Linked DNA regions of Homo sapiens: region 1 is linked to region 2. Evidence: fine-mapped expression QTL. A gene starts in region 2. The other region holds a variant in brackets. All regions are shown on one strand. Distances are from middle to middle.

Region 1 (4,398 bases), 900 kb before region 2:
ACCTGCATTCAGCAGTTCCCAAGCTTTTGTACCACACCCAAGAAGAATGAGGATATGCTGGGCATTGAAGGGTAAGGATGGTGGAGAAGAATTTTACTGAAGGACAGAACAACTGTCAGCAGAGAGGGGATATGGGGGGTGGTTCCCCTACTGGAAGGCAGGAAAGCCCCACCATGGTGGCTGGGTCCAGGACCTTTTAGGGACTCAAAATGGGAAGTACATGCTGGTTTGTGAGGTATGCAAAAAGGTTAAAGTGAAGACACCACTCAAAGGTGGGCATGACAGTGTAGAAAAACCAATTAGGAAAGGGTAGGTATATGTAAAATAGGTGAAGAGCGGGGAACAATCAGAGGAAAGTATGTGAAATGGGAAGATAAGTTCTCAATCCGGTCCCAGAGTTTAACTTGCAGTTTGGCTTTCAGGCTTTAAACTGTCTTTTGTTTAGAGGTGGGGTTTCACCAGGAACCCACCCCATCTGCCTAGGCATTTGGCTGCCTCCTGTCGCTATCAGTGATATCTGAATGTTGTATAATACTGTTTTCATTTGGGCACCAAACAGCCCTCAGCAAAAGCCTTTGATTGGATCCCATCTCTTGATATCCTGAAATTTCCTTCTGATAGCTTTTAAAAGAACCAATTAAGTAAGACTTATGTAAAACGAACAAATCAGCAAAGAAACAAACAAAGGAAGCTAAATACAGAAAGTCTTTTTAGCCATTCTTTAGTTCATTTTGTTCATTGATTCTGTAAACCAATTTTTTTCTTAAAAAAAATTCTTTATAAAAATGTCTTAAGAGAGCTAAATCTAATGAAATAGTCTCTGCTCTTGAAGGATTTACAGTGTACTGGTCATTAGATGCTGGAAGGTTACTATATTTGACGCTTTCCTCTTTCATTGCCTTTGTGATAAATAAAGCCTGGATTGGCAAGATGTTCATGAAATTACAATAAGAAATTAGGTCACTCTAATTCTAAATTTGTATGTGTGTGTGTATATGCGTGTGTGAATCCAAGTATGTGCTGGGAATTTATACATTTGTGATGTTATGTGAGGAGATAGAAATAATCGCTAGTAAATTTAGTCATAGTTTAAAATTTTTATGTTATTCTGATGAATAGAAATTGTTAGTATGCTTCACACATAATAGCCTAATCATATCATTTCTGCATACTATTCTTCATGGTGATTTTTAGTTATAGTCACCGTGGCTGCTACTGCTGCTAGTTTTCTAGTTTATGCCCATTCTCCTTTTTCTTTAATAGAGAAAACCCCATTTTTGTTCTTTAAGTAGAAAAAAAAAACAAGTTTCTTAAGGGCAGTAATGTATCCAGTTAATAACCAATTTCCCAGTTTCTCTTTTGAACAAGGGTGGTTTGTGACACAGTTCTGACTAGTGATATATAGGTGGACATCCTTGAGTAGGGTGTCTATGAAAACTCTTTAAAAATGTGACTTAGTTAATAAGGACTTTTTGCTCTTCAACCTCCTCCTTCCTTCTACCTGAAACAAGCCATGAGGCTAGAGATAGTGCAGCTATCTTGCAATGAGAGTTAAAGCATGACTAGAAAAGCCAGGCCCTACAGAGGCCAAGTGGAAAGCTAGAGGGCCCCTGGGTCTGTGACGGCATTGCGTAGTGACCTTATCATTCCTCTCCTGCCTATTTGTTTACTGACTGTTACTTCAGAGAAATAAACCTTGTCTTTGTTTAATCCAGTATTTGCTAGGTTTTCTGTTACAGCATAACCCAATCCAGACTGTTATTGTTACAAAAAAAAAAAAAAATAAATTTAAGAAAACTTACATGTAGTGGATAATTTGGCATCTTTCTCCACAATATATTTAAGCTTAAGGTTAGAAAATTTTAAATTATATTTTTTTCTGTTTAGATCTGAAAAAGAAATTATGGAGCTGTAATACTGGTAGTCATGAATAAAGTTTGACAAGAAAAATAATATCCTAGAAGTGAAATAGAGTTACAGTTTTCTTCCAGAAAATCCAGGCAAATAGCAACCCATAATATGGACAGATTTAAAGGTTTTATAACCCCCTTCACCAAAGATGCTTAGAGGTGGCTGATGTTCCAAGTAAACTTGAAACAGAAAGCAAATCACGCAAGCTTGTTTCAAATATAAAAGTTAATACTTTTTTCCAATACATGCTTCTCAAAGAAAATAAGCAGAAAAAAAAATTTCTACCATGAAAAGCTGCACATAATTTGAGTTCCAAGTGTTTTTTTTTCTTGAAGATAAATCTTGCTTTTTATATAACTTGGATCATAAGATTATTCAAGTGTGTATTTTATTTAAGTTAGTGACTTACACATTGTTTATGTTACCACAAAATTTTCATAAACATAGTTTTTCATCAGAACATGGAAAATTATTTATTTGCTCATTCCCTATTTTTGGATGTTTAAGGTGTTTTGAATTTTATCAAGTCATAAAAAGCACTGCTAATTATATGCACAGCATTTTCCCTGCAAAAAAAATTTTAAAAAATTTTTCTAGATCAAC[G/A]AGACAGAAAGTCAACAAGGATACACAGGAATTGAACTCAGCTCTGCACCAAGCGGACCTAATAGATGTCTGCAGAACTCTCCACCCCAAATCAACAGAATATACATTTTTTTCAGCACCACACCACACCTATTCCAAAATTGACCACATACATGGAAGTAAAACTCTCCTCAGCAAATGTAAAAGAACAGAAATTATAACAAAATATCTCTCAGACCACAGTGCAATCAAACTAGAACTCAGAATTAAGAATCTCACTCAAAACCGCTCAACTACATGGAAACTGAACAACCTGCTCCTGAATGACTAGTTGGTACATAACGAAATGAAGGCAGAAATAAAGATGTTCTTTGAAACCAACGAGAACAAAGACACAACATACCAGGATCTCTGGGACACATTCAAAGCAGTGTGTAGAGGGAAATTTATAGCACTAAATGCCCACAAGAGAAAGCAGGAAAGATCCAAAATTGACACCCTAACATCACAATTAAAAGAACTAGAAAAGCAAGAGCAAACACATTCAAAAGCTAGCAGAAGGCAAGAAATAACTAAAATCAGAGCAGAACTGAAGGAAATAGAGACACAAAAAACCCTTCAAAAAATTAATGAATCCAAGAGCTGGTTTTTTGAAAGGATCAACAAAATTGATAGACCGCTAGCAAGACTAATAAAGAAAAAAAGAGAGAAGAATCAAATAGACACAATAAAAAATGATAAAGGGGATATGACCACTGATCCCACAGAAATACAAACTACCATCAGAGAATACTACAAACACCTCTATGCAAAAAAACTAGAAAATCTAGAAGAAATGGATAAATTCCTCAACACATACATTCTCCCAAGACTAAACCAGGAAGAAGTTGAATCTCTGAATAGACCAATAACAGGAGCTGAAATTGTGGCAATAATCAATAGCTTACCAATCAAAAAGAGTCCAGGACCAGATGGATTCACAGCCAAATTCTCCCAGAGGTACAAGGAGGAACTGGTACCATTCCTTCTGGAACTATTCCAATCAATAGAAAAAGGGGGAATTCTCCCTAACTCATTTTATGAGGCCAGCATCATTCTGATACCAAAGCCAGGCAGAGATACAACCAAAAAAGAGAATTTTAGACCAATATCCTTGATGAACATTGATGCAAAAATCCTCAATAAAATACTGGCAAAATGAATCCAGCAGCACATCAAAAAGCTTATCCACCATGATCAAGTGGGCTTCATCCCTGGGATGCAAGGCTGGTTCAATATACACAAATCAATAAATGTAATCCAGCATATAAACAGACCCAAAGACAAAAACCACATAATTATCTCAATAGATGCAGAAAAGGCCTTTGACAAAATTCAACCACCCTTCATGCTAAAAACTCTCAATAAATTAGGTATTGATGGGACATATCTCAAAATAATAAGAGCTATCTATGACAAACCCACAGCCAATATCATACTGAATGGGCAAAAACTGGAAGCATTCCCTTTGAAAACTGGCACAAGACAGGGATGCCCTCTCTCACCATTCCTATTCAACATAGTGTTGGAAGTTCTAGCCAGGGCAATTAGGCAGGAGAAGGAAATAAAGGGTATTCAATTAGGAAAGGAGGAAGTCAAACTGTCCCTCTTTGCAGACGACATGATTGTATATCTGAAAAACCCCATTGTCTCAGCCCAAAATCTCCTTAAGCTGATAAGCAACTTCAGCAAAGTTTCAGGATACAAAAATCAATGTACAAAAATCACAAGCATTCTTATACACCAACAACAGACAAACAGAGAAGCAAATCATGAGTGAACTCCCATTCACAATTGCTTCAAAGAGAATAAAATACCTAGGAATCCAACTTACAAGGGATGTGAAGGACCTCTTCAATGAGAACT
Region 2 (4,398 bases):
TTTATTGCCAGTTTGCTTCTGTTCTTATTCTTTTGCTCTCCAGGAATTCTAGTTGGGTATCTATTCCTTGATGGGTTTTGAACTATAATCTTTATCTCCTCCGATCTGTGATGAGACTTCTGAAAATTTTCTGTGCACTTCAACAGCTTTCTTCTTATCTTCTTTCCCTGTTCATCTTAAGAATTCTGCTAATGTTTGAAGAGAAAACCACCAAGTTTTAGGTTGGCTGCTTAAAGATTCCCTTTTCATCAGGATCTTGGCCCCTAAATCCCTTGCTGTCTTGTCAGACTTGACTCCAATTTTTGTTCTTAGTTATGTGACATTAACCAAAATTATGGAAAATTCTATGCCTTCAAGCCACAGTCATATTCTTAGATTCTTCAATTATTTGCTATGAAGAATCTGCAACATCTTGGACTAGGAACTTGGGCTATCCCTCTCTTCCCATGCAAGGCAGTTTCTTCACTCCTACCCTGGGTACATCTCTAGGCATCTGGTGACTGCTCCCAGGACCCCCATCAAAGCTGGTGCTTTGGGTCTCTGCACATTCAAGCCAGGGAGGGTCCATGACCAATAATTTTCAAAATGTAGCTTCCAGAGTCATAAAAAATGCAGATGCTCACTGTGTGGTGGACGGAGGCAGATAGGCTCTAGGCCGGGCACCCCTGCTAAACCCCAAACTGTAACTGGGTAGAATTCATTCCTAAAAGTCTTGCGTATGCTATACTTGGTGCTCTTTGTTATTCATATTGGCCTCTGCCCTTTAGCAGGTATATTCCTTCAGATACACATTTTGTTTCTCTGAAAACTGGATCCTCTTAGCTTTTTTTTTTTCTTTTAATTTTGGTTAGTTCAATGAGGTTCAGGTAATATTCTCAGGTTGGAAGCAGTGTGGCAGAACAGCCCACTTCCAGTGTTCGTTCTTACCGGTCAATGTCTCTGCATTCAGTAATTCAACTATCAATTGCGGCTATTTAAATACATTGCTTTTTAATGTATTTAAATAGCCGCAATTGATAGTTGAATTACTGAATGCAGAGACAGATTTAATGGGTGCAGCACACCAACATGGCACATGTATACATAGGTAACAAACCTGACCTGGACGTTGTGCACATGTACCCTAAAACTTACAGTATAATAAAAAATAAATAAATAAATACATTGCAATTTACAGGTGAAAATACTTAAGGGTGAGCGGTTAAACAACTTGCTTACCACCACCTAGTGGATAACAATGATTGACAGCTCTTAATGTCAGTTCCGTCAGACAACAAAGCCCACATTTTTAAAATGCTATGCTATGCTCTCTGAATGTTCAAACCAGGGAAGGCCCACGCCCAGTAATTTTCAAAATGTGGTCTCCAGAGTCATAAAAAATGCAAGAGCTTATTGTGTGGTGAACTCAAGCAGATAGGCGCTGGGCCACCCACCCCTGCTAAACACCAAACTGTAAATATATAGTTCACAAGACTACTTCCTATGTGCAAGGGGCTGGTTTAAGCATTTTAACTACACTAACTCATTTCAATCTAACAAGTCTGTTACATAGTTACTATTATTATTGGCTATCAATATTACGCCTATTAAGCTGATGCTTAAAGGTTAGGTAATCCAGCCAAGATCTCGTAAGTGGTGTTGTCAGATTTGAATCCAAGGAGTCCCTTGCTTGTAATGACTATCCTACCAAAAGTTCCTTGCCTAATAAAATGTTTGAATATTACTGATCCAGCCCAAGTTTGAAGGACAGGGCCCAAAGATGCGAAAGTATTTTCCTAATATAACACACTCAGCTAAATAATAGAACAGGCTCTTGCAACTCTCTGTGGTCCCAGGACACTGAGGAGGGGCTCCTTCTCATGGCTTCATTTCAGCTCCACTGTGCGTTTCCCTTCTCTGCCTGGAGTCTCCAGAGGAGCCTGGGATTTGGCAAGAAGGCGGGAGGGAGGAAAGCCTCACTGGACCAGGAACGAAGAGGGTGTCTGGCAACAATAGGACGGAATTTGAAAACCTCTAACCTTGAGTTTAGAGCGATGCTAGCTAGTGCCAGGGCTAGTGAGGTGCCCATTCCGCCAAGGCGCGGGACAGCGAGGACAACCACGCCTTGCCAACCAAAGGCGACCTGACAGCGTTTCCTCGGGGTCGTCGCGGTGGTGAGGGTCACAGAATTCTCCGAAGCCAGTAGCTCCGTTTCCAGCCACGCCCCCTTTCCCAGGGCCCTAAAAGCTTCGGGAGTTCTCCTATTCCATTAATGCTGGTGCGTCCTCGCCTTATCCCCCGAGCGCCCGCAGCTCCCGCCCGCGCAGGAATGCCAGCGGCCAAAGGTCGGGAGGCGCGGGATACTTCTGGCCAATCAGGAGTCACGTTTTCCCGCGCTCTCTCTTCCCGCCCCGCCCCTCCCGTATCCATGGAAACACTGCGAGTGTCTACTCCAAGACCTGGGACTTCCGTTTCGGTCCAGCCGGGCTGCGGCCATTGTTTGTGTGGACTGAGTGTTTTGGCCATCCCGGTCCACTCTCACAGGCTCCGTTAAGTGACATGAACTCTCAGGAGGACTGAGCCAGAAGCGGACAGGGCAAGACGAGCTGTGCTTGAAGGAAGAGGGGCAGAAAATCGAGGGTCAGGGACTGAGAAGCTACTCCGGTTTAGAAACCCCAGAGACACCCGTGTAGATGGGTACATCACGGCTTCTCTCCCACGTTAAGACTTAATAAAGGCAAGTAGAGGAGGGCAGAAGCAGCTTGGGCCCCGGGGTATGGGTGCCCGGTGTTCGGTGCCGGGGCAGAGTTCTGGCCGGGGATCTGGATAAGCAACGGAGGCCGCGCGCGTCTTCAGTGCAGGAGCAGGGGACCCCCGGGTCTGTGGCGGAGACCGGGAGATCCCGCTCCTAGAGAACCGTTCGTGTGTCTGGTTCTCTGGTGCTTACACTTGGGCAGCCCGTGACGCGTTGGGGGAGCCCAAACCTGTCCTGCTCTTGGGGCACGCATGAAACGTTTTTTCCCTAGAGAAAGAGGGTTAACTAATTGCTTATTACTTTGCCCAGGAACCTACCTTTGATCAGCAAGGAAGGACTGGGGTGGCAAAGGCTCATGCCCCCATTTTACAGGTAAGGAAACTGAGATCTTGGAGATCTATAAGTTTGGTCCTCTTTAAAGTTCTACAAGTGCTTGATGGCACAGTTGAGACTTTGATCAGGACCTGGGAGCTCCAGTTCTGGGATACTTCTCTAAGACTCCAGGTACTTTTCTGATAGTAAATCCAGTATTCCTGTTTAGCAAGTAGGGGAGGACAATGGAATGATTTTCTACTTAAACTGAACAAAATAAGAAAAATACCTTGAGAATAGATACTATTTAAGTGTGCTGGTGCTTTCCTATTATTGTTAGTAGTAATAATAATCTCAATAAATAAGTGAGTTGTATCTTTTGAAGTTTCTAGAGGGTTGGAAATAAATTTCAAGGTGCCAGTGTTCATAGCTCTCCTTTCTGGTCGTTGAAAGGAAACAAGAGCATTCATAGGCTTCTTTTGGACCTCTTGCTAGGAGATGTGTGCGTCATACCCAGTTAGTATATGGGAAATTTAATGAATTTGGGAATTTAAAGCCATACCCAGGTTTTCAGTCTGCCTTCCTCCTCAGCTCAGCCGTCTCAGCACTCTACCCTTCCCCAGAAGAGGAACACAAAGGAGGAAGGAATGTACACTGTTTCCCTCATAGTCTGATCCCAAGTGAGGATGATTGTCTTTTCTCATTTACAAAATGTCCCTGCATTCTCCATGGGTGGTGGAGGTGGCAATGAGGATGGATGGATGACTGGACAGAAAACGTTCCTCGCTTGCCTGTGAAATTTTCGAGCGTGCAGACTTGACCCTGCCCCAACCCAGTGTCTTTTCCCAACATTTACTCATTCATTCATTCAGTCACTCAAGTCTAGTGTATAATTCATGCTGTTCTTGGTGTTCTGAGATAAAGAATTATAAGAATGTCATCGCCAGGCGCGGTGGCTCACGCCTGTAATCCCAGCACTTTGAGAGGCCAAGGTGGGCGGATCACTTGAGGTCAGGAGTTTGAGACCAGCCTGGCCCACATGGTGAAACCTCGTCTTTACTATAAATACAAAAATTAGCCAGGCATTGTGGCAGGCACCTGTAATCCCAGCTACTCAGGAGGCTGAAGCAGGAGAATTGCTTGAACCCGGGAGGCTGAAGTTGCAGTGAGCCAGGATGGCACCACTGCACTCCAACCTGGGCAACAGAGGAAGACTCCCTCTCAAAAAAAAAAAAAAAAAAAAAAAAGTCTTAACATTGGGGGTAATAAACTATATGAGATTAATAATAATTTCTGAAGTTATCGACATTAAACAGTGCCAGAATGAGTGGCACTTAAAACACAGCAACAGA

Evidence for each region. PIP is the estimated chance that this variant, and not a neighbour inherited with it, causes the effect.
Region 1: its variant is the best candidate, but not a certain one, in a credible set for the expression of ZNF214 in gastroesophageal junction (GTEx, PIP 0.78).

The regions. Positions count from the first base shown.
Region 1 is chr11:7,921,949-7,926,346 of GRCh38, reverse strand. OR10A6 (olfactory receptor family 10 subfamily A member 6 (gene/pseudogene)) reads left to right here. Exons shown (of 4, transcript NM_001004461.2): 4 at 1-1,755. Among named protein-coding and RNA genes, the nearest start is that of OR10A6, 7.1 kb to the left of the region's middle. The variant G/A (reference allele first, on the strand shown) is at 2,515.
Region 2 is chr11:7,018,391-7,022,788 of GRCh38, reverse strand. ZNF214 (zinc finger protein 214) reads left to right here and starts at 2,443. Exons shown (of 3, transcript NM_013249.4): 1 at 2,443-2,716. It overlaps NLRP14 (NLR family pyrin domain containing 14), which reads right to left and starts at 2,310. Exons shown (of 12, transcript NM_176822.4): 1 at 2,019-2,310.